Regions from separate parts of the Homo sapiens genome. Here region 1 is linked to region 2. Evidence: fine-mapped expression QTL. A gene starts in region 2. The other region holds a variant in brackets. All regions are shown on one strand. Distances are from middle to middle. Region 1 has its middle 65 kb from the start of MPP7-DT. Region 2 holds the start of MPP7 (MAGUK p55 scaffold protein 7).

Evidence for each region. PIP is the estimated chance that this variant, and not a neighbour inherited with it, causes the effect.
Region 1: its variant is fine-mapped to the expression of MPP7 in cerebellar hemisphere (GTEx, PIP 0.99).

Annotation. Positions count from the first base shown.
Region 1 is chr10:28,360,759-28,374,753 of GRCh38, reverse strand. No RefSeq gene overlaps it. Among named protein-coding and RNA genes, the nearest start is that of MPP7-DT, 65 kb to the right of the region's middle. The variant G/C (reference allele first, on the strand shown) is at 4,243.
Region 2 is chr10:28,296,094-28,312,821 of GRCh38, reverse strand. It overlaps MPP7 (MAGUK p55 scaffold protein 7), which reads left to right and starts at 9,758. Exons shown (of 17, transcript NM_001318170.2): 1 at 9,758-9,961. MPP7-DT (MPP7 divergent transcript) reads right to left here and starts at 9,653. Exons shown (of 2, transcript XR_930772.3): 1 at 8,393-9,653; 2 at 6,551-7,423. RefSeq lists a silencer at 9,572-10,211.

The DNA of each region.
Region 1 (13,995 bases), 63 kb before region 2:
AAAAATTTCAAGTAGCATTTAGCTGAGTTCCAGAATAAAATTTCTCCTGTGTGCAGACAGAACTTGTGTAGTTGTAAGGTCTCAGAAGGGTAAGTGCACCTGAATGGTGAAATGCTAACCATTTGGAAATATATTGATTATGAATTTATGTATTATGCATTATATTATATATTTATATATTTTATGTATAATACTTGTACCTATATATTTATATCATAATTATAATTATCAGCCTTCCACAACTAAAATGTAAGTTATCAGAGAACAAGGATTTTGCTCTGTTTTATTCACAATTAACACAATAGTTTAAAAAGTAAATGACTAATAGAATACATTAACTTGTAAGGAAACTTGTTTATAATTGAGCCTGAGTTCCACAAGATGCCAGGGTAGCTTTGGAGGGGCGGATGGGATGGGGTGGCGGTGCAGGAAGGGCTGTGGGGTGAGGTGGGGTCTGTGCTGGGCAAAGAGAGGGTGGATGGAGAAAGGGAGGAAGCCAAGGGTAGGAGTTCAAGCTACAGAGATGGAAACTGTGTTCTCATTGGAATGTTCATGGGAGGATTTAGTGGGACCCAGGTCAGGGAAATACATTCCTGTTTTGTTTTTTTTTTTCCAGTTTTGTATCTCTTCTGCTGTTAATTTTTTGAAAATGTGCATTTGTCTATTTTAAAATATAAATTGTCCATAATGGTCTCTTATTTGTCTAATCTATTCCAATGATTTTGATTTTTTTCTTACAATTTTTCTTCTTTCATTTATGTTTTTCTCAGTGACAATTTCATAAATTAGACTATGTCGATGGAGGAGTTTTCTTATTCAAATAACTCCATTCGAATGTATTTGTTTATTTAAATGATGGCCTGGTTTGTAATTTTTCATTCATAAATTCTTTCTTCTGATATCTTCAAGATTTTATTCTTTCCTTTTCTTCTTTTCTAGAGTCCTGATGTGAGTGTTTGATAATTTAACAGACAAAATAACTGTGTGGCTCCTGAAATTGGCCTTTTTTGGGGGTCTCTTCAGAGGCTTCAGGGAGAGGCAGGGGACCCAGGGAGAGGTAGGGGACCCAGGGAGAGGCAGGGGACCCAGGGAAGAGCAGGTGCTGCTAATTTCCATCTCTTTTGCCTGGATTTTAAAATGGCTCACAATGCCAAATCCTAAACTATATTCTTTCAAACATCAACCACCTTGGAATTGCCCCCTTTTGGAATTTTAAAATACGAGCTTGCTTTGTTTTCTCTGCCACCTTGCCATGACCTCACCCAAATGCTGTCTCCAGATTTCCCACCTAGGTTTTACAGGCAGAATATATATATATATACATACATATATATATACATATGTATATATATGTGTGTATATATATGTGTGTATATATATATATTTCTTTTTTTTTTTTTTTGAGACAGAGTCTCACTCTGTGGTCTAGGCTGGAGTGCAGTGGTGCAATCTCAGCTCACTGCAACCTCTGCTTCCCGGGTTCAAGCAATCCTCCTGCCTCAGCCTCCCAAGTAGTTGGGACTACAGGCGTGCGCCACCATGCCCGGCTAATTTTTGTAATTTTAGTAGAGATGGGGTCTCGCTATGTTGCCCAGGCTGGTCTCAAACTCCTGGACTCAAGCCATCTGCTGGCTTTGGCTTCCCAAAGTGCTGAGATTACAGGCGTGAGCCACTGGGCCCAGCCTGCAGGCAGAATACTTTATAGTGATAGAAAGTAGCGACCCTGAAGTTACATAATTCCAGGTTCACATCCCAGTTCTGCTACTTCCTCGCTGCATGACCTTTCTCTGGTTATTTAGCCCAAGCCTCAGTCTCCTCACCTGTCAGATGAGGGTCATGATAGCACCTGCTTCAAATAGCACTTCCGAGCATGAAAAGAGATGGTGTATGTCAAAGACCTATCACAAAAGGAATATTTGCTAGTTTGTTAAGCTTTTCTAGGGGCTTTTACATACAGGGTTGTTTCTTGTTTTGTTTTTTGTTTACGACAGGGTCTTGCTCTATTGCCCAGGCTGGAGTATGGTGGCACGATCACAGCTCACTGCAGCCTCAAACTTCTGAGCTCCGGTGATCCTCCTGCCTCAGCCTTACAAGTGGCTAGGGCTACGGATGTGCACCAGCACACATGGTGAATTTAAAAAAAGGTTTAAGAGGCAGAGTCTCACATTGTTGCCCAGACTGGTCTCAAATTCCTGGCCTCAAGGGATCTTCCCGATTCAGCCCCTCAAGTAGTTGAGATTTCAGGCGTGTGCCACTGTGCCCAGCTCTACTTCAGGTTTTTAAGTGTCATCTCACTGCCCAAGGGATTAGCTATTATTCTCAGTTCATCGTGAGGAAAGACACAAAGATACTAAATGCAATTTCTGCAATTAACGACTAATTAGTGACTAGAATTTGAGATTCCTTATTCCCAGACGCGTTGCTCTTTCTAAGGCGGCAAGTTAGCTCTTGGCCAAAACTGAAAATTAATTATTTTTTTTGCCCGTAGTGCCCAAACACCCCTCCTTACATTCTCTAATTCTTTCCCTGGGTCTTTTTCGTCTCTCTCAAGTCTTAACAGATAACACTTAACATGTTCTCCCTCCCAGAAGCATTTGGGTTATTTTTTTAATTTTTAAAAATTTCAACTGTTGTTTTAGATTTGGGGGTACATGTGCAGGTTTGTTATCTGGGTATATTGTGTGATGCTGAGGTTTGGGGTACAGTTGATCCCATCACCCATGTAGTGAGCATAGCACCCAATAGTTTTTCAACCCTTGCCCTCCTCATTTCTCCTCTCTCTAGTAGTCCCCAGCATCTATTGTTGCCATCTTTATGTCCCCATATACCCAATGTTTAGCTCCCACTTACAAGTGAGAACATGTGGTATTTGGTTTTCTGTTCCTGTATCAATTCACTTAGGATAATGGCCTCCAGCTGTATGCATGTTGTACAAAGGACATGATCTCATTCTTTTTTATGGCTGCATAGTATTCCATGGTGTATATGCACCACATTTTCTTTATCCAGTCCACCACTGATGGGCACCGTTTGATTCCATATCTTTGCTACCATGAATGGTGCTCCCAACAGCATTTGTCTTTTATCAGTGAATTCTTTAAAAATCAGAAAGCCTTCAAGAGGTGAAGAATGAACATCTAAAACAATTCTTAAGGCCAGGAACAGTGTCAAACAAGGGGCCTTCTCAGGGAGTGTACTTTTTTATTATATCTTGTGGTCAGAAGAATAATGCCCCCGAAAGATGTCCACATCCTAATTCCCAGACGCTGCCTTGTCACCGAATGTGACAAAGGGACTTTTTAGATGTAGGATCTTCAAATGGCGAGCTTATCCTGGATTTTCCTGGATTATTCAGGCAGACTCGGTGTCATCTCAAGGGTTCTTATAAGAGGGAGGCAGAGGGTCTGAGTCAGAGGAGGCAACCTGATGATGAAAGCAGGGGTGAGTGTGTGTGTGTGTGTGTGTGTGTGTGTGTGTGTGTGTGTGTGACAGAGAGGGAGAGAGAACCCTTTGACGGTGCTGCATTGCTGACTTTGAAACTGGAGGAAGGGTCAAGGAGTCCAGGAATCCAGGCAGCTCCTAGAAGTCAGAAAAGGCAGGTACATGAATTGTCCCACTGAGCTTCCAGAAGCAATGCAACTCCTGACACCTTGAATTTGGGAGTTCTGACATCCAAAAGCATAAGATAATAAATTTGTGTTGTTTTAAGTCACTAAGTTTGCATTAATTTTTAACAGCAGCAAAGGGAATCCAATACACATCTTACAGTCCATCTGTGGCCAAACAGATTCAACTTTTCCACCATTCAACTATTTGCAACACCTACCAAATGGTTCAAAGCAGCATGGTGCTGCACACCTCTTGCAAAATGAACTATATGATGAGAATTAACTAAGAGTTCAAACTTGAAACCATTGGCTTGGGGAATGATTCGATCAATACTAGGGGAGATATAACAGTATGGAAAAGATGCTGTTGATTCTGGCCAATGCATATTGCTGTGCAGTTTGGGCCCAGCTGAGAGTGCCTGACTGTGGGGGCAAATGACAGGTGAAGTCCAGGCCAAGCACCATCTGCCAAGTAGTGCACCTGGTCATGCAGCGGCCTTTGCCTGGAGGAAGGAACACCATTTTCTAATTTGCCCAAAGGCACCAGATGGACTAGCAACAGTCCCAGAAGACTTAGCATGGTTCTGCCAAGGACTGAGGGTGTGAATTCAGGTTTGCTACCACTTATCATTTT[G/C]GATAGAAGCTACAATTAATTAGGTAATTCACTTCTTTGGCATTCAATTTCATTGCTTAAAAGGGAGACTTCAGGTGAAATGAACTCATTGTTACTAACTCCACTCCAGCCCTGCATGCCTTCTTGCTGTTCCTCAAGCACATACCTCCTACCCCAGGGCCTTTGCACTCACTGTTTCCACTACCCACCACCTGGCTTGCTTGCTTCCTTCCTTCATTCCTTCCTTCCTTCCCTCCTTCCCTCTTTCCTTTCTCTTTCTCTCTTTCTCCCTTCCTTCCATCCTCTCTTTCTCCCTCCCTCTCTCTTTCTCTTTCTTTCTTTGGGCCTTGGTTTGTTGCCCAGAAGGGAGTGCAGTGCTGTGGTCATAGTTCACTCCAGCCTCAAACTCCTTGGCTCAAGTGATCCTCCCACCTCAGCCTCCTGAGTAGCTGGGACTACAGGTGTGCACCACCATGTCTGGCTAATTTTTTTTTTTTTTTTTTTTTTGAGATGGAGTCTCACTCTGTCACCCAGGTTGGAGTGCAGTGGCACAATCTCGGCTCACTACAACTTCCGCCTCCCAGGTACAAGTAATGTTCCTGCCTCAGCCTCCCGAGTAGCTGGGACTACAGATGCGCACCACCACATCTGGCTAAATTTTGTATTTTTAGTAGAGACCTACTGACCTCGTGATCCACCTGCCTCAGCCTCCCAAAGTACTGGGATTACAGGTGTGAGCCACCGCGCCCAGCCCCTGTCTGGCTAATTTTTATTTTATTTTTTTAGAGATGGAGTCTTGCTATGTCGCCCAGGCTGGTCTCAAACTCCTGGCCTTACGTGATCCTCCCACTTTGGCCTCCCAAAGTGTTGGGATTACAGGCATGAGGGACTGGGCCCAGCCCTAATAAATATTTCTTGAAGGCATAGACTTTTCTTCTTATGTTAAAACTGACTTCCACAATAGGATGCTTCGGCGTTTCATGTTTTGTGTATGTGAGTGTAATTTTGCTCCCTGGTGGGGTGTAAATTTACTTTCTGAGGCATGGGGGTGAAGGTGACAGTGACTAGTATATTGCTTCAGGATGTGTTCTGGCCCCTTCTTATGGTGTCACCATCTTCTAGGATGTGGCCAGAGCACGGTGAGGTATGTAACAAAATGAAACCTTTTGCTTAAAATCAAATTGGCCAGCAGGGCGCGGTGGCTCACGCCTGTAATCCCAGCACTTTGGGAGGCCAAGGCAGGTGGATCACAAGGTCAGGAGATCGAGACCATCCTGGCCAACATGGTGAAACCGTCTCTACTAAAAATACAAAAAAATCAGCTGGGTGCGGTGGTGCACACCTGTAGTCCCAGTTACTCAGGAGGCTGAGGCAGGAGAATGGCTTGAACCCAGGAGGTGGAGGTTGCAGTGAGCTGAGATTGTGCCACTGCACTCCAGCCTGGTGACAGAGTGAGACTCCGTCTCAAAAAAAAAAAAAAAAAAAAATCGGTCAAAGTACAATATTTGCTTCCTACTCTGCTCATCTTCACCTGAAAAATCTACAGATTCTTCAGATTGCAAACCCATGCTTACCAAAGATAAATGCTTGCACTTTGCATGAATTTGAAAATGTATCTCTTATTTTTCATTCAAGACTCCAAGTTGGCCAGACAGGATGACTCATGCCTGTAATCCCAGCACTTTGGGAGGCCAAGGCAGGTGGATCACATGAGGTCAGGAGTTCAAGACCAGTCTGGCTAACATGGTGAAACCTCGTCTCTACCAAAAATACAAAAATTAGCTGGGTGTGGTGGTGCGTACCTGTAATCCCAGCTACTCAGGAGGCTGAGGCAGGAGAATTGCTTGAATCCAGGAGGCAGAGGTTGCAGTGAGCTGAGATTGTGCCACTGCACTCCAGCCTGGGCTAACGAGCGAGACTCCGTCTCAAAAAATAAAAATAAATAAAAATACAAAATAAAAATAAAGACTCCAACTCAATATTTGGGGAAAAAAAGCCACTTTTATCCCTGTCTTTGACCCCTTAATCATTTTTCCTTTGCTGGACCTAGTCCTGTCTCTCTGAACTCTCTGCTGCAATTTCCTGACACTGTGGCCCAGGTCTGGGGAGCTCTTTGGGTGGGGCTGAATGCCGAAGCTCACTCACCACTTCCCTTCTTTTCAAAAGAAGCGAAAGTCTTTCTAGTTCCTTCGGTTTGGGTACTTTCTTTAAGTATGTGCCTGAGTAGACAAGTCATCGTATTTCCTGATTCTGCTCACTGAAAGTAGTTTCTACTTGTGTGCAGGAATAGCTTCTAGCTCTGATGCTTAATTCTTTTGACTTAAATATCCCCATATGGTGGGAGGTCTAGAGAGGAATTTATACCACTGAGACTCTCACTATATATATTTTTTCTGTCAGTTACTCTTGTAAGCTGTGAGTCTTTAATGATTACCATATGCACAGGCCCATATGGTCTGAGCCTCCACTCAGCACGTGTTCCTTGATCATAATGTCACAGAGCAGTGTGGCTTTTCCTGTGAGCATTCTGTGCAACATAGCATGGTGACAGATACCTTATCCGGAGTCGCCATTTTATTTTTTCAACGTTTTCAGTGCGTCTTTGGAAACACTAGCCAGCCACTTGTAGACACGTCAAGTACAGATTCATATTTGAAATATCCTGGGTAAATATTTAAAGTATTTCTGTGCCAAGCAAAGTGGCTCATGCCAGTACTTTGGGAGGCTGAGGCGGGAGGATCAGTTGAGGCCACGAGTTTGAGACCAGTCTCGGCAACATAGTGAGACCCTGTCTCTACAAAAGTAAAAAAATTAGCCGGGCATGGTGCTGCACCTGTAGTCCCAGCTATTCGGGAACCTGAGAAGATGACTTGAGCCTGGGAATTGAAGGCTGCAGAGAGCCACGATTGCATCACTGCACTCCAGCCTTGGCGACAGAGAAAGAACTGTCTCAAAAAACAAAAAACAAACAAAGTCTCTCTGTAAGTTTGTCTGTCCATGATACGCAGGGAAATTCAGAGAGGAATTTGAATGTAACTTTTATCTCTGTAAAACAGTAGCATTCCTTCTTTCTGGCCATACTAAGGACCTGTTCCCTAAATGGCTGGAGCCCACGTTAGTTTGAATTGCTGCGTGTGAAGCAAAAATGCAATTTCATTATCCGAACAAAACAACTTGGCTTCATCGTGGGAAGCTCGTTAATTTCAAATGGAAAATAATCAACCCAGAAAAGGATGGGTGGGCTTTTTCTTCCTCTTTTTCCTGTAAACTAGAGGAAAATGGTTTTTGGCTGAAAGATAGCTTGGCAAGAAGCTTGACTCTTCAAAAGGAAGCCCCTGTAGAGAGCAGATAGGCTCTGACAGTGGGGGGCACAGGTCTGTGTCCATTTGTCACACGATTTTGAAACTGGCAGGGGTGCCCCTGCTGCTTATATCACAAGAGGGTTTCCACAAGGCACGTGTTCTCCAGTGAGGGTTCTCAGTAACTCATGAGCCATTTGCGACTCGGTACAAATTCCCAGGGGCCCAATCTCTCCTCTTTTGCCTGCTCCACCTAATTCTAGATTAATGTCATGGGTGGGTGAGAAGAAAAAGAAAATTATAAGACTTTCTATCTATTTTTATTTTTATTTTTTATGACACAGGGTCTTGCTCTGTCACCCAGGCTGGAGTGCAGTGGTGCAATTATGGCTTACTGCAGCCTCAACCTCCCAGGCTCCAGCTATCCTCCCACCTCAGCCTCCTGAGTAGCTGGAACCACAGGTGTGCACCACTACACCTGGTTAAGTTTTGTATTTTTTGTAGGGATGGGGTCTTGCTATGTTGCCCAGGCTGGTTTTGAACTCCTGAGCTCAAGCAATCCACCTGCCCAAGCCTCCCAAAGTGCTGGGATTACAGGTATGAACAGTCACGCCCAGCTTCTAGCTATTTTATTTTAGATTCAGGGGGTGCACGTGCATGTTTGTTACATGGGTGTGTTGCATCCTGGTGGGACTGGACTTCTAGCTTACCCATCACCCAAATAATGAACGTTGTACCCTTTAGCTTTTTAAATAGTAACAATGAAAGCAAATCTGAAAACCACTGGATTATACACCCCAGTCTATAAAGATAGAAGCAAATTATATGTAAACACTGCATACATGTTGGGGATCAGCAAACGATACCCCAAAATATGGTGCTTTGACATACTGAAATAAAGAAGCAGCCTCAAGTTCACTCTGACCTTCTCCCCACCTCCAACTCCTGTCTCTTCACCTTCTGTCTCTCCCAAATGCACAAGAAGAGAATGTTCTCTGAAGTTCCCTAATCTAGGTAGAAACTGGACCCGCCAAAAAGGAACACAATTGCCTTCAATATCCTCCCTGAAATTTCATTAACCTGAGAAGATTAAAGCTTGTATCACAGAGGAGACTGAAAGTGAAACACCACACCTGGAGCCCAGATGAACTTTGTCCCAAACTATCATCTGTTCTCTGATCCCATTCAATTTCCAAAGAGAATCATTTACTTACCATTGTCTGAGCATGGGGCTCATTCATCTCCCCTATAAATCATTCACTACGTCTAAAAATAGCCATATTTCCCTTTTCTCCCATTCCTCCACAAAGAAGGATATAAAAGCAACTGAGCCTCATTGGGTTACTGGGTAATCATCCTTCTGTGACTCCCCTGTGCTAATGCACATTACATACATTTGTTTGCTGTTTTCTTCTATTAACCTGGCTATTGTCCATTCATGTTCAGCACATCTTTCAGAGGGCGGAGGTGAAGCTTTTCCTTTACCCCTAAATCTGCATAAGCAGCTCACTTTTCAGTTTCCTTCATATGTTGTTTTCATCACTCTTTCTCCTTCTTCCTCCTTTTTTCACTTATCCTATTTTTCTCAACCTGTTTTATTTTTGTTTTTCTCCTCCAACTCTTTCCTATTCTGTCTTTCCTCTTCCTTATTATTTTTCCTTCTTTTCTCTGTGAGCCTCTCCTTCCTCTGTAATTTCTGTCTTCCACAGCAGGCAATAGGAGAGCTCTAGATTTCATGTGCCACAACCTGGACTGGAAAAAGATATGAAGCCAGGTCACGTGGTAGCAACAATTGAGTCTTTTAAAACATTTCCAGGGTCCCAAAGTAGTACTTAGGATAAAACCCCTTTATTGTCTCCATATTGTCTTCTTGCATTAGGATTTTTAAAAATTGCACTTTTATAATGTTTTTTTTTAAACATAACTTAAGGCTGGGCGCAGTGGCTCACGTCTGTAATCCCAGCACTTTGGGAGGCCGAGGCAGGCAGATCACCTGAGATCAGGAGTTCGAGACCAGCCTGGCCAACATAGTGAAACCCTGTCTCTACTAAAAATAAAAAAATTAGCAGGGCGTGGTGGTGTGCACCTGTAGTCCCAGCTACTCAGGGGGCTGAGGCTTGAGAACTGCTTGAGCCTGGGAGGCAGAGGTTACAGTGAGCTGAGATTGCACTACTGCATTCCAGCCTGGGCAACAGAGCAAAACTCTGTCTGTAAAAATATATGTATTTTATTTTATATATATATATATAAACTTAAGAATGTTTGACTTGTAAATATTTCAGTATTATTTTAAAATCAAGGCTAGGATGTGTGGGGGTTTCATACTTGTAAATGAGTTTAGGTTGTATTATACCTGTTGTGATTTTTTTTCATTAGTATCATTTTTTAAAAAATGTTTTTCAAAATAATTTGTGTAATAGATCATCATAGCACTTTCTGTTAGAAAAGTTTTCTTAATTATAATCATTAAGTTGGCTAACTTTTCTGAGGCAGTAATAATGGCTTTTAGGTGATAGGGTGGTGGTAGACTTTGTTTTTTTATTTTTATTTTTTTGAGATAGGGTCTCGCTCTGTTGCCTAGGCTGGAGTACAGTGGTGTGATGCTTATAGCTCACTACAGCCTCGAACTCCTGGGCTCAAGAAATCCTCCTGCTTTGGCATCCCCAGTAGCTTCAGCCTCCCCAGTAGACTTTTATCTATGCTCAGCCTGTTTTGTTTTAAATTTTTTGTAGAGATAGAGTCTCATTACATTGCCCAGGCTGGTCTTGAACTCCTGACCTCAAGTGATCCTCCTATCTCAGGCTCCCAAAGCACTGGGTTACAGGCATGAGCCACCATGCCTAGCCTTATTGTTCTGTTTTTTAAAACAATTATCCAGTGATGTGAAGTTGTGAGAAAGAAGTTGACATCACACTGTAGTTTCTCCTCCTCCTCCTCCTCCTCCTTCTTCGTTTTTTTTTTTTTTTTTTTGATGGAGTCTTGTTCCATCACCAGGCTGGAGTGCAGTGGCATGATCTCAGCTCACTGCATCCTCCATCTCCCAAGCTCAAGCGATTCTCCTGCCTCAGCCTCCCAAGTAGCTGGGACTACAGGCGTGTGCCACCACGCCCGGCTAATTTTTTGTATTTTAGTAGAGGGGTTTCACCATGGGTTTACTCTTCTTCAGAATATTTATTAATTGTGTTGCAGTGCACTCTTACATAAATGCTGGGAGAGTCTCCTTTTTGCCCTCTGGAAAGGCTGGTCCTGGATGCAAGTTTCTCATCTTTCCGCAGTGTTCTCTGAGGGGCCTTTTGCGTATGTGTTATTATAACCCTCCCTATCACAGCCTGGCTGGGGTCACACTCTTCCCCGTTGGTTCAGGGGGCCTAGGCTCAGATCCCACTCATGTGAGACCCAGTGTGACTACCGAGCCTACTTGTGAATTCTGGAATCAAGATTCAGAATCAGATCCAGGGGAGGACTTCTCATTCTCTCTTGCAGAATTGTCCTTTGGCTTGAAGTACATGTTCTGATACATTCCTCTTCTTCATAGAAATGTCTCTACATGGAGAAAAGTATAAAAATAAAATAACATGTGGTGTCATCTTCCAAAGAAAAGGCCTAAATAAGGTGTGGTTTGAAGTTAGCAGATGTTTCCTCAACATAATGCTGACAATAGGCCCTTACCATAATGACTGGATTCCCTTATCTTTATCTTCTCAGGGCATAGCAAGTATCTGGCCATAACAGGCTCTTTATTCATTTTGAATGAATACATAACATAAAATACATTAAATAGGTTGTAATAGCATTCTAGAAATTCAATAATATGAAAGAGAAAGAGAGAAGGAGAATGGGCCAAAATATAATAAGATTTCAGTGTCGAAATCAATTATATTAACTAAAGACATTACTACTATATATGAAAAGTGCTCTGAGCTGGTCATGGTGGCTCATGCTTGTAATCCCACCACATTGGAAGGTCGAGGTGAGACGGCTTGAGGCCAAGAGTTTGAGACCAGCCTAGGCAATATAGTGAGACAGCCCCAGCATGTTTACACAAAAACTAAAAAAATTAGCTGGGAATTGTGGCACACCTGTAGTCCCAGGTACTTAGGAGGCTGAAGCAAGGGGTTCATTTGAGCCTAGAGGTTCAAGGCTGCAGTGAGCTATGATTGCACCACGGTACTCCAGCGTGGGCCACAGAGTGAGACCTTATCTCTTAAAAAAATTAAAAATAAACATAAAAAATAAAAAGACCCTTGCATTTTTCCCTACAGCTTATACAACAAACAGTACACAAGTGTACTGTAAGATACTTCTGACATATGTATATACCTTTGAAACCAGAACTGTAACTAAGATAATAAATGTATTCATCACCCTCACAAGATTCTTCTCATCCTCATGTAATCTTTCTCTCCTGTCCCTGTCCATTCACTTCCTGTCCCTAGGCAACCGTGATCTGCTTTTTGTCACTGTAGATTTATTTGTATTTCCTAGAATTTTATGGAAGTGGAACTAGATCCACATATCAAATACTGTGTATATAGTGTATGTACTCTTTTTTGACGGGCTTTTTTCACTCCGCATAATGTAATTATGTTGCTGTGTGTATCAGTAACCCATTTCTTTTAAATGCCTGACCACTCTTCCATTGTATGGATACACCACAGTTTGTTTATCCACTCACCTGTGTGGGCATTTGTGTGTTCCCAGTTTGGGATAATGGTGAATAAAACACCTGTAAACTTTCACGTATGATGCTTTCCAAAGTAGTCGTCCATTTTACATTCTTGCCAGCGTTGTATGAGGGTTCCGCTTGCTCATCATCCCCAACACTTGGCATGGTCGGTGTCTTTCATTTTAGCCACTCTACTGGGTATGTCGTGGTATTGCACTTTGTTTTTGTTTTTGTTTTTGTTTTTTTTGAGACGGAGTCTCACTCTGTCGCCCAGGCTGGAGTGCAGTGGCGCGATCTCGGCTCACTGCAAGCTCCACCTCCTGGGTTCACGCCATTCTCCTGCCTCAGCCTCATGAGTAGCTGGGACTACAGGCGCCCGCCACCAGGCCCGGCTAATTTTTTTTGTATTTTTAGTAGAGACGGGGTTTCACCGTGTTAGTCAGGATGGTCTCGATCTCCTGACCTCGCTGACCTCGTGATTCACCCGCCTTGGCCCCCCAAAAGTGCTGGGATTATAGGTGTGCGCCACCGCGCCGGCCTGTTTTGTTTGTTTGTTTGTTTGTTTGTTTGTTTGTTTGTTTTGAGATGGAGTCTTGCTCTGACGCCCAGGCTGGAGTGCAGTGGCTTGATCTCAGCTCACTGCAACCTCCAACTCCTGGATTCAAGCGATTCTCCTGCCTCAGACTCCTAAGTAGCCGAGATTACAGGTGGGTGCCACCACGCCCAGCTAATTTTTTTTTTTTTTTTTTTTTTTTTTTGAGATGGAGTCTCGCTCTGTCGCCCAGGCTGGAGTGCAGTGGCGGGATCTCGGCTCACTGCAAGCTCCGCCTCCCGGGTTCACGCCATTCTCCTGCCTCAGCCTCCCAAGTAGCTGGGACTACAGGCGCCCGCCACCACGCCCGGCTAATTTTTTGTATTTTTAGTAGAGACGGAGTTTCACCGTTTTAGCCGGGATGGTCTCGATCTCCTGACCTCGTGATCCGCCCGCCTCGGCCTCCCAAAGTGCTGGGATTACAGGCGTGAGCCACCGCGCCCGGCCTAATTTTTGTATTTTTAGTAGAGACAGGGTTTCACCATGTTGGTCATGCTGGTCTCACCATGTTGGTCATGTTGGTCACCTCGTGATCTGCTCGCCTTGGCCTCCCAAAGTGCTGGGATTACAGGCATGAGCCAACGCACCTGGCTTTGCACTGTGGTTTTAATTTTCATCTTACCAGTGATGAATGATGTTGCGTGTTTTTTCATGTGCTCATTTGCCATCCATATATCTTCTTTGGTGAAGTGTCTGTTCAACTCTTTTGCCCATTTAAAAAACTGTCTTGCTTATTTTCTTCTTGAGTTTTGAGAGTTAAGATTGTTTTTAAACAATCTTAAAGGTGTCTTTAAAAGATTAATGGGGCTTTTTAACGGAAAAAGCAGAGCAAACTTTGCAATTCTAAAAAGAAAAATACTATATAATACAAAATAGTATGAACACTGACTCTGTTCTTTCTAACTTGAAGAAGTGATTTTCTTTTGTTGGTTCACTAAAGCATAGGTGATTGAATTTATCAACAAAGCAATTTTAGTGTGGGCTTTAAAGATTTAAAATTTTCTTCATTTTGTTTTCATTTTAAATTTGTGTGTTCAGACACATATCACTCCACACATTACCTAATAAATGCTCGAATGCATAATATTAATACATATTCATGTTAATATTTTAATTAATTTCTGCTTTGTTGAAATGGTTGTCCTGTTGTGGGATCTCCTTGGCTAATCAGAATAAAGAGGAGAGTGAGTACGTTTGGGTGCAAGAGTTAAAAGATA
Region 2 (16,728 bases):
TGGCATAGTTTCTAGGATAACATAAGTGGTGCAAGAGTCACTTTGCTTGCGATGCTCCCTTGGGAGATCAACATGGTAAGTACAAAGATGACTGAGCTTAATTAAATCTAAATTCTGAATGACTCATCTCACTATGTATTTTTTTCTCAACGTTTCCATCACTGGCCTTCTTTCTGAATATAAAATGCTTATTCCAATTATACGTGTTACAAAGTGTTCACGTATTTTGTTCTTAATGAGTATGGCTAAAAAGTGTTGAGACTGGTTTTTTTGGTACAAGGTAGAAGTGTTCTCAATTTATAATCATGCTGAGAGGTGAAGCCAGCTGGACTTCCTGGATCAACTTGGAGAACTTTTGTCTTACAGGAGGATTGTAAAACGCACCAATCAGCACCCTGTAGCTAGGATTGTAAAATGCACCAATTAGCGCTCTGTAGCTAGCAAGAGGATTGTAAAATGCACGAATCAGTGCTCTGTAAAACACACCAATCAGCACTCTGTAAAATGCACCAATCAGTGCTCTGTAAAACACAACCAATCAGCAGGAGTCTAAAAGTAGCCAATCGTGGGGAGGACTGAAAAAAGGGCACTCTGATAGGACAGAAACAGAACATGCGAGGGGACAAAAAAGGGAATAAAGGCTGGCCATCCCAGCCAGCAGCGACAATCAGCTCAGGTACCCTTTCACGCTGTGGAAGCTTTGTTCTTTCGCTCTTCACAATAAATCTTGCTGCTGCTCACTCTTTGTGTCCGTGCCATCTTTAAGAGCTGTTAATAAGGACCATCTCCATTCTTGAAGTCAGCCAGACCGTAAACCTGCTGGAAGGAACCAATTCTGGACACAATGCCAGAAAAAAAATTGATCTTTTTTTTAAAAAAGCTAAATGCAAGTTAAAAAATTATTTTATAATCCCAACTTCAAACACTATAGATAAAAGAGTATTTTAAAAGTATCCAAACTGGTTCAACTTAAAGCTTTCTAGACATGGGCAAGAGGGAGGACGGAGCATTAGTTGACATGAGAATCTCAGTGTTTGTGTGTGTGTGTGTGTGTGTGTGTGTATTAACACATCTATGCATTCTATTTAATTTTTTAATTTTTGTAGAGATGGGGTCTTGCTATGTTGCCCATGTTGGTCTTGAATTCTTGGGTTCAAGCAATCCTCCTACCTCAGCCTTCCAAATTGCTGGGATCACATGTATGAGCCACCATGCTCAGCTATATGTATATTTCAATCAAATGGACATATATATTACCGGACACAACTTGTTTGAATAATCAAAGACTAAATCACAAACAGGCAGAGGCTCCTCAGGTTAGCATACCAGCATTTACGTAATTATCAGTCTCTTTATTGTGTTTTATTTAAGAAGTTCTTGACTATGTTACTGTAACACATATGGTCACATACTATGCTGGGGACCACATATAAATTGGTATAGAGGTATTCATGAGGTCGCTAGCAATCCAACTTCAGACACCCACACATCATGCTGTCATTCACACCCGTATGCCTCAGAATTATTAGATCACTCTCAGTTTACATACAGAAGTCCTTGAGTATGCAGCCAATTGCAAACCACATGGAAAATCAATCTTGAAGGGTTGCCAAATAGAAAAAAATAAATATAATGGATCACAGTCACTGCTAATACTTTAGATAAATGTTTCTTGCTCAGGTACAACTGGTTGATGAAAACTCTTTCATTTTAAAATGAGTTCCAAATGAGTTAGTTCAGTAAATCTTCACTAGATTCTTGCTATGTCTCCAACCTGTAAGCCACTGGGGATCCCATAGTGAATAAGTCAAAGCCCCTGACATTGTGGGGACAGTTTTATTTATAAGCAAGATCAAACCTGTAATTTTAGCTAAGAGAAAAATATTTTAGGTTGATGCAAAATTAATTAAGGGTTTTGCCATTACTTTTAAATGGCAAAACCCGCAATTGCTTTTGCACCAACCAAATATATTCCCCACACTTATAGACTTAGAATTCCAATGAGTCTATCAGATCAGTGCAGGGTAAAGTGGTTTATAGCTTTTTCCCAAAAATACCTGAGGGTCCTCTACCATCACCAACAGGATCACTGCTGTAATGAGGTAGATCCAGGTGTGTGCATTTGGGGAGAGCCTGTTAAGAAGCATTGAATTAGCATCTCAGTGCTTGTATAATTTGAAAAGGCTCTTCAGGTAATTTTAATACTGTTGCAAATTAATGGTATAAGGAAATTAGTTTTTTCTTATGTTTGAAACTATTAATATGATTGTTCCTGCATATGCACATGTTTATGGTATTTTTAATGGTATATAATTGAAAGTTGCTGGATTCTGGGTGATTCGTGATGGTACCATGGTGGCAACGAGTTCGTGTGACAGCGCAACAGGAGGAGATGCAGGCATGAAGACAGAACATGGGAGAGTGGAGCAGGAACCTGAGCTGGGAAGAACTGGCTGTGTGTTAGGCCATTTTTGCACTACTTAAAGGAATACCTGAGACTGGATCATTTATAAAGAAAAGAGTCAGGCACAGTGGCTCACACCTGTAATCCCAGCACTTTGGGAGGCCGATGTGGGCTGCTCACCTGAGGCCAGGAGTTCGAGACCAGCCTGGCCAACATGGTGAAACCCCGTCTCTACCAAAAATACAACAATTAGCCGGGTGTGGTGGCAGGTGCCTGTAATCCTAGCTACTTGGGAGGCTGAGGTAGGAGAATTGCTTGAACCCAGGAGGCAGAGGTTGCAGTGAGCCGAGATTGTGCTACTGCACTCCAGCCTGGGTGACAGAGCAAGACTCCGTTTAAAAAAAAAAAAAAAAAAGGTTTAATTGGCATTGGCTCCCAGTTCTGCAGGCTGGATGAGCATGGCGCCAGCATCTGCTCAGTTTCTGGGGCGGCCTCCGGGAGCTTTTATTCATGGCAGAAGGGGAAAGGGGATCAGGCATATCATGTGATGACAGCTGGAGCCAACCCTGGAGCCAATCCCCAGGGAGGGGATGTGCCACACACTTTACTCAACCAGATCTCCAAAGAACGCACTGACTGTCAGAAGGATGGCACCAAGCCACGAGGGATCCGCCCCCACGACCCAAACACCTCCCACCAGGCCCCACCTCCAACACTGGGGACCACAATTCAATGTGAGATTTTCAGGGGAAAACATCCAAATGATATCAGGTTGTTAATGATAAAGTTCAACAGCCAAACACCATCAGAGACAAACCTGCAGTCTAACTTGGTTGGGTTTATGAGCTTGTAACAAGGGGGAGTGCTCCAAGGAACCCACAGAGGGTCTCACCAAGGGAAAAAGTAGCCTTCTTGTAGGAACTGGGAGAAGGAATTGGAAGGAAACAGTGTTGTGATAGACTGAAAGCAGAGCAAGGCTGTGAGTAGCATTTTTTTTTTTTTTTGAGATGGAGTCTCACTCTGTTGCCCAGGCTGGAGTAGAGTGGTGGGATCTTGGCTCACTGCAACCTCCACATCTCGGGTTCAAGCAATTCTCCTGCCTCAGCCTCCTGAGTAGCTGGGACTACAGGCACCTGCCACCACGCTCAGCTAATTTTTGTATTTTTAGTAGAGATGGGGTTTCACGATGTTGGCCGGGCTGGTCTTGAACTCCTGACCTCAGGTGATGTGAGTAGTATCTTCTTAACATTTAGTAATATTTTTATTAACATGAGTTCTGGTGTGACAGATTCAGAGTTCTGTTTCCTTGGAGACCATAAAGTTAAATGTGGAATGCTGGGTCCCCACATCTCTGAACTGAAGGCTGGAAATAAAGACTGCTTCCTTGGGTCAAGTGATCCTCAGGCTTGAATCATCCAGGCAAGAGTGGGTGTTCCATTCTCATTGATCATCAAATAGCAGTTTCTGACTAGTTTTAGAGTTTTCCAATTTTCTTAGTCCGTGTCCTTGGTGTTAATTAACAAGAGCAGTTTTTACAGATTCACATCAATATAGAAAAATGTAAAAAGAAAGTTTTGACTGAAGCAGGAAGAGACAATAGATGTGAAATTCTTTTTTGTTGTTGTTGTCTTTTTTTTTTTGAGACAGGGTCTCACTCTGTTGCCCAGGCTGGAGTGCAATGGCGTGATCATAGCTCACTGCAGCCTCAACCTCCTGGGCTTAAACAATCCTCCTGCCTCAGCCTCCTGAATAGCTGAGACTACAGGTGTGCACTACCACACCAAGATAATTAATAGGTGTGACATTCCAAAATAAGTTGTCAGAGCAAGAAGCAAATCTTAAAAGGAAATATCCTAGCCCCTTGGTGACTCTTAAAAGTGCCTCACCCAAAATAGGATCATAAAAGGGCAGAGGAAGTGGAGTTCAGGAAAGAATCTATGAAGATGTTTTCTCTGAAGAAAGCAATTCTGTTACTCCTGCTTCTTTGAGACCTTTCTCCTTAAACTCACTAGAGAGGCAGTGTCAGTGAGGCAGACCATGAAGGCAACTTGATTTGTGTCCCCTGGTATTTGGAGACAAATCTCAAGTGGAGAGGCTGAAGATACTGGCTTGAGGCAGCAGTGGGGCAGTGGTGGAGAGAGAGAACACTGAAGACCAGTCTGCACACAGCCAGCTGCACTTTTACCAACCATGGGCGTAAAGTATGGATGAATGTCTGAAGGACCAGATAACAGCTGTTTGTTAAGAGACAGCTGGGCTGAAGGAGTTTAAATCCTGCCTACAAGGATCACCTGGAGCAGCCTAGCGACCATTTCCCTTCTTCCCCTGCAACAGGAGACTATAAAGTGACTGGCAGGGAATGAGAAAGCGAGGGGAAGTGTTAGAGAAAATTGCATTGCTCAGGTCAAGAGAAGTGGAGTTGGATGTTTCAAGTACAGGTCTCTAAGAACCCAAGAAAAGACCCAAGAAGGAAGCGCACATTTTAGTCATTGTCCAGGCTTGGAGAGCAACCCCTGCTAGCAATGCACCAGTTAAGCATGAACTTGCTAGTCCTGGACTCTTCCCCCTTCTTTTTGCAACCTGAATTTGAAGGGGATTCTAGGGGGATAGAGAGAAGGATCCTTTCCCCCTTTTTGGAGTTCCATAGCTTGGCTGCATGGGACCCTTTCTGGGGAAGCAGAGGGAAAGTTTAACTGTGAATGAAGCTTGAAAGTGTTGATCAATGGCATTTACATTAAAATTAAAGCTGTATATTGTGATTTAAACTGACCAAATGATTTTTATTACCTGTGAGCAATCAGAAAAATTTCGGGATCACCCAAGTTTTCATCCAGGGGTGGGGACAGATGTCCTCATACGGAATGCCTGTGGAAGGGATGGTGGCAGATCGAGGTTTGCCATCTGCTTCCCTTCACGCCTCTGTCCTGCTTGTTCTGCAAGCTGGTCTCATCTGAGCCCAGAGCAGCAGGCTAGTTCACTGACACTCATAGATTTGGCAGGAGCATTTGCTCTTTGAATACATTGATGTCAGGAGGTACACTTCAGATAGGGAAACAGGAAATTACTAGAAGACCTGAACAAGAATGGCAACTTGAAACTGGAACACACAAGGGTACTGGGTGTCTGGAAGCCAACTGAAGTAGAAAGATTTCCAGAGAATGTGGGAAATTACCATCCAAGCCTTCGGCCTTGGCCTCTAGGTCTCCAGTTTACTATAAACAGCAGGTGAAGACTTTCAGTAACTAGAAAGGAAGCCTCATTGACTGGCGATTGAAAATGTCAGGGGTGCAATGAATGCGTGTCTGGTAATCTGCCCAGTGTGTCTTCTCTGGGAAACCTCTGCTCATAAACAGGGATGGGCCCTGGCAGCCATACTGGTCCCCTGCAGCCCCCATCATCTATGATTAGGGTTAGGGTTAGGCAGGTGATTTAGTCCTTGTGGGTGCAGCTCTGGAACATCATTTCTCTGACACTGGGACATAGGAGCCAGGGGCTGGTTATCAGAATAGGAGAATAGAGCACAGGTGTAGAGAGAGCACCTGCTATGGAAAAAAATTCCATTGAGTTCCTCCTGGCTTTTCAGGTCTGCGATCTGGGTCTTCCTGAGGACTAACTTATTTTTGCCTTTGGGTTCTATTATACATCTATCTAATCTATCAATCAACGATCTATTATCTATCTATCAACTATCTATTATCTATCATCTATCTATCAACTATCTATTATCTATCATCTCTCTCTCTCTCTCTATCTATCTATCATCTATTTTAGAGACAGGGTCTTACTCTGTTGCCCAGGCTGGAACGCAGTGGCAAAATCTCTGTTCACTGCAGCCTAGAACTCCTGGCCTCAAGCAATCCTCCCACCTCAGCCTCCCGAGTAGCTAGGACTACAGCTGCACACCACCAAACCTGGCTAATTTTTAAATTTTTTGTAAAGATGTCTTGCTATGTTGCTCAGGCTGGTGTTGATTTCCTGGCCTCAAGTAATCTTTCCACCTTGGCCTCCAAAGTTGTTGAGATTATGGGCATGGGCTACTGTATGCAGCCTCTTCTGTCTATCTAATGAATTTCTGTCCTCTATTAGGGTGAAGAGATAGCTTTTCAGTGGCTTTGAAGCATTGTGCCAAATATTTCAAAGATCACATTTTAAAATCTACTTTTTGATTTATTTAGTTGCTGCAAATTTTGACTTATCTGTCACTAATCAGCTGGATGTACTGAGATACTTTGACATTTCCTAATGTCTGGTGCTTTCTCTTTCTGGCCCTCCATAGTGAGGGCTGGATCTCTTCCCTTATAGGTATCTGCTAATGCTGGAGGCTCAACTGATAAAGTAAAGATAGCCATCCCAAGAAGCAGGCGGAAAGGCTGGGGCTAATAGAACAGATCTCTACTCCAGGGGCTTCAATTCTGCCCTAGTTCTGGTCAAATAGGATTAATACTGCTCACCGTTACTATCCTAAAAGGGCTGTCATGGTTGAAAGTGGGCATTTACTATTTTCAGTGTCTTTTGTTGCTGGAATAAAGGAGATGATAATATGAAACAAAAATCAGGTTGCTTCTCCTCATATTTTGCTCAGCTCCCAAGCATTCAGAATGTCGTTACTAATTAGACATTTGTTTCAACATTCTGGGGCCATCCAGGCTAGGCAATCTTGTGATGTGGGGAAAGTTGACTGGTTATGCAATGGCTTTGCATTAGATCCCCTGCTCCCTTGCAGGCGCTGAATGCTCTTCTGTTGTTCTCTGGATCTAGAACCCTGTCCCTTTTCTCTGGGATGGCTCCTACTGATGTTTCAGCTTATTCCTCATTTGCTGCAGGACAGTCTCCTTGGCCCCATAGTACTCTTGATTTCCCCATCACCTGTGCAGTAATAGTTTCTCTATAGATCCACCAGTCTTGTCTTATTCATTGTTATATCCACAGATCTAACCTATTTCTAGTAAACAGTAGGTTCTTCCTAGATCCATTCCTGATGATTGGCTTAATGAATGAATGCTCATTTTACTGGTGACTCTGAAAAAGGAAAAAAAAAAATAATGATTTTACTCCACTATCAGCAACTCGATGTTGCCCGTCAGGAATCCTTGTAACAAAATACAAAGTTACCATTGCCTACGAGGTCCTCACCTCCTTCTCCAACCTGTCTAGTAGCACTCTCCTTATGCACCATGATACCCATGCTGGCTTTCTCTCTGTTCCTGCTATACATCACTTTTCTTCCTACTTCAAGTCCTTTGTTCTTGCTATTTTATCTGCCCTGGAGTTTTGCTAAGTTGGTGTTTTCTTATTTAGGTGGTGCCTCAAATCTTAGAGCATTTCTCTTAGATCATTTCTCCTTAAAGCATTTTTCTCCTTTCCCAAAATTAAGTGTGTCTCCCATCCCTCTGGTCACTGTTTTCTTCTTTGCCCTGATCCCGGTCTGGAAGTTTATCTTTTTATTGGATCATTGTCCATCTTCTGATAAAAACAGCTGCAAGTCTGTCTTGTTCAAGGCTATACTCTGAGTGCTTAGTAGAAAGCCTCGTTCATTGCAGTATCTAGTATTTGATGATTAATATTGATTACGTTTGATGAGTAAATGAATAAAAGAATAATCTTAGACATACATTATTTAATCCCAGTGAAAGAATGTTAGTGATGGAATTTCAGGTGTTATTGTAGAAGAAACTTTTGAAGGGTATTCCCTACAGTTTGTTCATACTAGGCTAAGTTCCTCTTCTTTTCCTTACACAATGTAAAAATATTAGATCTCAAAACTATTTGCTCAAAGTACTTACTTTAGGACACGTATTTTTAGACTACAGTTTAGAATTACAGTTATTATTAGAAAGGTTTGGTAAAAACTCTTTTTGTTAGGCAATAAGGTTATTCTGTCCTCCAAAGACCTTTACTTTATTCTCAGGAAGTAAGAGAGAAAAAAGAATTTCTTGTCTTCTTTCTATCAGGTGTTTTGCCCTTACTTCTCTTTAAGTTTATGTTTACCTTAACATTCCTTTCCTTCCTCAGGTTTGCTTTTTGTCTATCTCCATTTTTCACTATTACGTAATTCACGGAGTTGCTGGGGGGAAGTGCTTAATTTCAAATAGCCTGTTTTAGAACTTTGCGAGAATGACAAGAACAAACAGAATGTTAAGGCAGCTAGAGAGAGTTAAGTGAGAGTGGTCCCTAGGTGAGAAATGCTTCTTGCCTTCTAGGCTGACACCAGTTCTGGGGGATGTGTTCTGAGAGCTCATATTAACTGCAGGTCATTGATCCTTATCTCAATCCCCTTCCTCTCCCTTCAGCTTTCCATTCAAAGTCTCTATCACATCTTGAAGTGTTGTCACATTATTTTTTTTCTGATGATTCCCTCCATCAGCTGAGCTTTCCAATTTATATTACCTGATTTTTTTTTGTCTTCTGCTTTTTACTACCCCTTTTTCTAAAGCTTTATTGATTGTGTACTTTGGATTCTAATTCTTCCTATAAGAGTCTTCCTGTAATTCTGTTTGCAGTGTAGTGCTGTCCACATTATGTGTTGGTTACATGATAGGAAGGAGTATGGGGGCACCTCGGTCACATATGTAAAGTTCTTTAAGAGAGCTGAAGGGCGCTGATACCAGTTCATGTTTTTTCGGGGTAGCCCTCAGATATTAAGCATGTTTACTGTATTTTCTTCTATTGTGAAAGAATCAGTTCTCTGGATTTCCTTAAAGTTTGTCTTTACCATTCTCCGCACCCTACTCATTTTTCTATTTAAGAATTTTTTTTTCTAATCATGTAGTACATGTTCAATATGGAACACAAAAAGGTAATAAGAAAAAGTCACCTACAGTGTCGCCAAAGGTGAAAACACCTTATGTCTTTTTTCGTGCATAACAATATCCCTCTCAATCTTATGCAGCATTTTTAAACCTAGGAGACTTGTCTGAATCCAAAGGAAGTTAAAGATTACGTTATTCACCAAGTTCATACTGAAATCAGAGAATCGCAGCGGCTTAAGAAAACTCGCATCTGGCGAATGAACCTGCGTATCCGGGGTTCTCCTCAGGGAGGTTGCTCGTCCATGAAACACACTCCAGTCTGCAGCCACCTGGGAGTGGGAACCAAGGGCGAGCGAACCGGGCGGGCAGGGGTGGAACTTGCGGGGACTGCGGGTATGAGGAGGAGCTACAGAGCTGTCACCAATCAGAGCCCAGCTTTGTTTTCTCTTGCCGACCAATGAGGGAGTTCTGCTGGAGAGGCGTCTTCAAGTCTGAGACGCCTATCGCCTTCGCAGCCTATCAGCAGGCCCCTCTTACCCGCGGGCGGTGCAGCCCCGCCCCGCCCCTCCAACCGCGGTCCCGCCCCTCCGAGGGTGGGGGCCGTGTTGGTTACTAGCCGGGCTGGAGGCGGGGGCCGGGCTCCCACTGGGCTCGTGCGTTCTGCGCCCGCCGCGGCGGTGCCGAGCCCGCTGGCTCCCGATTGTCCTCTGCGGCGGTGGCGGTCGCTGCCTCCTTGCCTCCGGGCCCGGGGCTGCAGGGGCCAGAGCGAGTGCGCCTCCTGCCCGCGGACCGCGGCAGCCCAGAGCAGGTAATGGGGCGCCTCTGGGGAGCGCCTGTCGGAGCCCAGGGCTAGGCTCGGGCGGTGGGGTCGGCCCCCGAAGCTGCTCCCTGCGCCGGCGACCGGGCCGAGCGGTGCCGCGGTCCTCCGGAGCCTCCTGCCGGCCTCTAGGCGCCTCAGCCTGGGAGCCCGCGGCGGGCACCTTGTGAGGAGGTGGGGGCGGGGCCGGGGCAGGGGCGGGGCCGCCTCGGGCGGGACCCTGAGGACCCCTGGAGACCCCTGTTGACGCGCGGGACTCCGGGCGGGGGCGGCGGCGGGGCAGACCCAGAGCGGGGAGAACCGACAGGTGGAGGAAAAACTGCGGAGTTGAGTCAGAGTCCGGCTCCCCGGGGAAAAGAACCGACTGAAAGGGAGCGATAAGCTGGCTGGCTTCTTTTTTTTCTTTCCCTAAGCCAGAAAGGCGTCTTCACTTGGGTCGTGTTAATTACATGTTTTCTGAGAACAGGCGTTTGGCCGTGTAATCTACACGATAGCATTATTTATTTACTTATTTGCTATTTAAAAAATTAAAAGCAGCATTTAGCGTGAATCTATTTGGGGGCTTTTTCTTAAGTGACAGGTAGACCCAGCCGAGTAACTCAGCTTTGTCTGGGCTGAAGTGGGGAGCGGTGAGGTAGGAATGAGGGGGAGGAGTGTTCGTGAGGAATGCCTGTGCAGGTTTGAAAGGATTGTGGGGGTGGGACCTTGTTTCTGTCACTGTGCCATGGGTGGGAGTAGAATTGTGATTTTTTTCTTTTTCTAATTTTTAAAAGCAATATTCACATTTAAAAAAGGGGGGGCTCTCTAAAAACAGTCTCTGTACTCGAGGCTTTGGGGATGCACCTGCTAGTCAGGCAGTAATAGTTTGCAGGTAAATCCTGGGCTATTAATTACGTAATTTGATTTACTTATAAAGAAGTATCTTGAATTGTTGCTGCCTTTCCTTTGACTTGCTCAATATATTGCTTGTTTACAAGTGAATTGATGAAGGTCACTGAGTTTTAGCGGTAATGTCACAGCGATGGCCCTTGGAGAGTTTTCTATGCTCAGGTTCACTCTGGTTCTATAAAAACAGTATTTCCATTTAATCGTGAAGCTCATAGCACTCTATCAATTATATAGTATGCCATCCTCCTACTCTTCTGAGGCAGGCTGTGCATAGCATGTCCATTTTACAGGTATGTCAACTGAAAGCCCTAGAAATGAAAGGAATCCTGCCCCACTTTACTCCTACTTTATTTTATACCTATAATGGATTTAATCCAAAATCTGGGTAAGATTCCCGCCATCAAGCCAACTTCTGCATACCAATTTGATCCCGTATACACAGGTCAGAGGTGGAGATGGTTATTTTCAAGTAAAGAAATATTATCTGCGAGGTTTTTCTTTCCATTCAGGTTGCTTAGCTAGTTTGAATTTCAGGTGAAAGGTAATTTTCCACACAGGCAAAACAAACAAAAGTTAGGAATGCTGTGTGAAAATCTCTATTTTAAATTTTGGGAAGCTTTCCAAATTAGAGAACCTTATTTGTGTTTGCATCTCTAGCTCAGCATTGAATTTCGGTACCTTTTTTTGAATTGAATAGAAATAATTGATATGCAGAAGGAAAATACTAATGAAGTGTAATGCATTTTGATCATGACTTATGACTTTGTTTCGGGAAGTGTTTACTGTAAATTTATAGACGGATTGAAGAATAATTTCTTAATTAGAATAACTTGACCAAAGGAGTTTGGGCATTAGTGTGGGACAGGCTGAAATGGGTAGTTGGGAGTAGCCGCTTGTATGATGTTAAGGCTTAGGGAATTCTAGAGAATCGTTAGGTTTTGTTAAATTTACTAGTTATCAGGAACATGAAAATGTCTTATGGATTACTGAATGGAACTCTTTTTTTTTTTTTTTCTGAGGTGGAGTCTCACTCTGTTGTCCAGGCTGGAGTGCTGTGGCTCACTGTGATCTCTGCCTCCCTGGTTCAAGTGATTCTCCTGCCTCAGCCTCTTGAGTAGCTGGGACTACAGGCGCATGCCACCACGCCCAGCTATTTTTTTTTTTTTAATATTTTTGTAGAGATGGGGTTTCACTATGTTGGCCAGGCTGGTCTCGAACTCCTGACCTCAAGTGATCTGCCTGCCTTGGCCTCCCAAAGTGCTGGGATTACAGGCGTGAGCCATTGCACCCAGCCTGAATGTAACTGTTCTAATCATGAAGTTATCTCTTGTTTTGTGGCTAATACCTCTGTTTCACATGTACATTTTAACATATTCATGTAACATATAAGGCAACTCTTCTTACACAAGGCTGTCACTCTAGCCCAGCATTTATTTACTTATTTATGTTTTAGTGGCTTTATTTAACTTTTACTCTCCTGTCAAAATTTCTAGCACCCAAGCAAAAATTTCCATAAAGGAACTTTTATCATCTGTTGATTATACAGAAAATGAATCATTTATTCTCATAAGCCCAGCCCTCTTGCATTGTGGGACACTGGAAAGATATTTTGGCTGTTTGTAAAGTATTTGCTTGTATTCTTACCTGAAGCTTTGACTTCTCCCCCTCCCCCAATGGTTTTCAGAGTTTCTGTGACTTTTTTCTTTAAATTAATTATGACACTACCTGACTTCCACTAGATGGTGCACTGGGGGGCGCTTACTGGAGATTTCAAACAGATTTTTGTTTTTCCTTGTTATAAACATTTCACTGACAAAGATACAAAGGTACTGCAGCTGTTTCTCTCCTAATTGCAATTCAGACAAAATTGTAATGAATGACTTAAGTCTTGAGTTTTGGCCAGGCATGGTGGCTCACGCCTGTAATCCCAGCACTTTGGGAGGCCGAGGCGGGCGGATCACAAGGTCAGGAGATTGAGACCATCCTGGCTAACACGGTGAAACCCTGTCTCTACTAAAAAATAGAAAAAATTAGCCGGGCGTGGTGGTGGGCGCCTGTAATCCCAGCTACTCGGGAGGCTGAGGCAGGAGAATTGGCCTGAACCCAAGAGGCAGAGCTTGCAGTAAGCTGAGATCGTGCCACTGCACTCCAGCCTGGGCCACAGAGCGAGACTCCGTCTCAAAAAAAAAAAAAAAAAGTCTTGAATTTTGTTAAATGAGATACATTCGGAAGGAAAGGGTATTCCTTCATTTTGAATTTAAAGTGAAGGAAATTGTTAGTCAGGCTTGCTCTCTGAAGATACTGTGTTTTTTACAAACTGAAGGTTCGTTGGCAACCCTGCAAGTCGATTGGTGCTATTTTTCCAATAGTGTATGTTCATTTTGTGTGTCTCTGTCATATTTTGGTAATTCTCACAATATTGCAAACTTTTCATTGTTATTCTGTCTGTTATGGTGATCTCTGGTCAGTGATCTTTGATGTTACGATTCTAATTGTTTTGGGGCTCCATGAACTGCACCTATATAATATGGTGAACTTAACTGATAAATGTTACATATGTTCTGATATCTCCACCAACTGGCCATTCCCCAACTCTCTTCCTCTCCCCAGGCCTCCCTATTCCCTGAGACACAACAATATTGAAATTAGGCCAATTAATAACTCTACATTGGCATCTAAGTATTCAAGTGAATGGAGAGTCGCGTGTCTCCCACTTTAAATCAAAAAGCTACAAATGAGTGAGCTTAGTGAGGAGGTCATGACAAAAGCTGAAACAGGCCAAAAGCTAGGCCTCTTGCACCAAACAAGCGAGCTCTGAATGCAAAGGAAAGGTTCTTGAAAGAAACTAAAAGTGCTACTCTGCTGAACGTCCAAATGATAAGAAAGTGAAACAGCCTTATTGCTAATATAGAGAAGGTTTTAGTGGTCTGGATAGAAGATCAGACCAGCCACAACATTCCCTTAAGCCAGCAGAGCAAAACCCTCTCTTCAATTCGATGAAGGCTGAGAGAGGTAAGGAAGTTACAGAAGAAAAGTTGGAAGCTAGAAGAGGTTGGTTCATGAGGTTTAAGGAAAGAAGCTGCTTCCCTAATGTAAAAGTGCAAGGTGAAGCAGCAAATGCTGATATAGAAGCTGTAGCATGTTATCCAGAATATCTAGCTAAGATCACTGATGAAGGTGGCTACACTGAACAACAGATTTTCAGTGTAGATGAAACAGCCTTATATTGGAAGAAGATGCCGTCTCGGACTTTCTTAGCTAGAAGGAAGTCAGTGCTTCACCTCAAAGGCCAGGCTGACTCTTTTGTTTGGAGCTAGTGCAGCTGGTGACTTTAAGTTGAAGCCACTGCTCATCTACCATTCCAAAAATTGTTAAGCGTCATGCAAAATCTACTCTGCCTGTGCTCTATAAATGGAGCGACAAAGCCTGGATGACAGTACATCTGTTTATGGCGTGGTTTACTGAATCTGTTAAGCTCACTGTCGAGACCCACTGCTCAGAAGAAAGGGTACCATTGAACAAGTGCTGCTCATTGACAATGCACCTGGTCACCCAAGAGCTCTGATGGAGATGTACAAGGAAATTAATGTTTTCATACCTGCTAACACAACATCCACTCTGTACCCATGGATCTAGGAGTCATTTCAACTTTCAAGAGTTATTATTTAAGAAGCACATCTTGTAAAGCTATAGCTGCCATAGATAGTGATTGTTCTGATGGATCTTGGCTAAGTAAATTGAAAACCTGGAAAGGATTCACAATTCTAGATGCCATTAAGGGCATTTGTGATTCAAAGGAGGAGGTCAAAATGTCACCATTAACAGGAATTTAGAAGAAGTTGATTCCAGCTCTCATGGATGACTTTGAGGGGTTCAAGACTTCAGTGGAAGAAGTACCTGCAGATGTGGTGGAAATAGTATACTGAGAACTAGAATTAGAAGTAGACCCTGAAAATATGACTGAATTGCTGCAATCTTATTATCAAACTCGAATGGATGAAGAGTTGCTTCTTCTGAATGAGCAAAGAAAGTGGCTTCTTGAGAGAGAGTCTATTCTTGGTGAAGATGCTGTGAGCATTGTTGAAATGACAATGAACGATTTACAATATTCTGTAAACTTGGTTAATAAAGCAGTGGCAGGGTATGATAGGATTGACTTCAATTGTGAATGAGGTTCTACTGTGGGTGAAATGCTACCAAAAGAGAGATCTTTTCTGAAAGGCAGAGTGAGTTGATGTGGCAAACTTCATTTTTTTTATTTTTTTGAGACGGAGTCTCGCTCTGTTGCCCAGGCTGGAGTGCAATGGCACGATCTTGGCTCACTGCAACCTCCGCCTCCCAGGTTTAAGAGATTCTCCTGTCTCAGCCTCCTGAGTAGCTGGGATTACAGGTGCACACTGCCACAGCTGGCTAATTTTTTATATTTTAGTAGAGATGGGGTTTCACTCTGTTGACCAGGCTGGTCTTGAACTCCTGAGCTCACGCAGTCCACCCACCTCAGCCTCCCAAAGTGTTAGGATTACAGGCGTGAGCCACAGCGCCCGGCCTTATTGTTTTCTTATTTTAAGAAATTGCCACAGCCATCCATCTTTCAGCAGCCAGCACCTTGTTCAGTCAGCAGCCATCAACATCAAGGCAAAATCCTCCACCAGCAAAAAGATTATGACTCCCTGAAGGCTCGGATGATCACTAGCATTTTAAAAAAATTATAAAGCATTTTAAAATTAAGAGCTAATGCTATTGCCAACATAATAGACTACAGTATACTGTAAATATAACTTCTATATGCACTTGGAAAGCAGAAACATTTCTGTTACCTTATTGCAGTGTTAGTTTTACTAAGGTGGTCTGGAATGGAACATGTGATATCTTCAAGGTATGCCTACGATTTCAGAAATAACCTCTCCTATTGAACCCTCTGATTCTTCCTGTGTTCAGAAACCCAGACCAAAGTGTAGATTTATTGGTCTTTATTTATGAGTAGTTGAATTTTTTTAATGTCTTGTGTTTTGTTTAAATTTTATGTAAACTGCGGCTTAGCTCTTTCAGCATAGTCTTATGCTTTGCTTTCTTAGATTACTGAGTCTTTAAAAGAACTGGTAAAGTGCATATGTGTGGAAAGATTATTTGCTACCTACTATGAACAGATACTTAAGTAAAAAAACAAAAACAAAAAAACCCAAGATGTTTTTTCCAGGCATATAAATGTTTTTTTCTTGAAGAGGCATTTAGTCTTTCTATTTACTAGAACATTATCAGCTTGCTTTACTTATGAAAGAGAGGAGACCATTCTTTTCTCTGTGAATTTAGGAGCTATTTGTCAGGCTTGTTTATTACTGATTGGGTTGCTTGTTACTGATTGTTAGAGAAGGGAGATGAAAATACATAGCAGTTGCGATATCCATTTTGGGTATAGAACTGGCAATGTTAGTGGAGATTAAAGACTAGCTGGTACGACTGCATTTTGCAAGATATTTTGAAGACAACTTTGGACTTTGAAAATGCAGGATAGGAATCTAAGTGAGAAAGTCTTTCAGTGGTTGGGGTGTGTGTGTGTTCACTTCAGTTGCACTGAACTGTGGGTGGGGAGGAGAGCAATAGTAAATTGTTTCTTACCAGAACACTGCCAGTTCTTAGGGGATTTGGTGGAGATTTGGGAGAGAGAAAATAAATAGGATTCAGCCCTTCTAGGAAGGTCATTCTTGGCAGTGCCTTCAGCCCTTAGGAGAGCGTGGGCATGGAAAAGGTGGGTGGTTGTAAGTAGCCAGGCAGATTAAAAGGCTGCTTCCTAGAGTTTTCTTTACCTTTGATGACCTTAATCAGGTCATTAAGCATTTTAAGACAGGTTTATAGCTCTCCTGTGGTCCAAG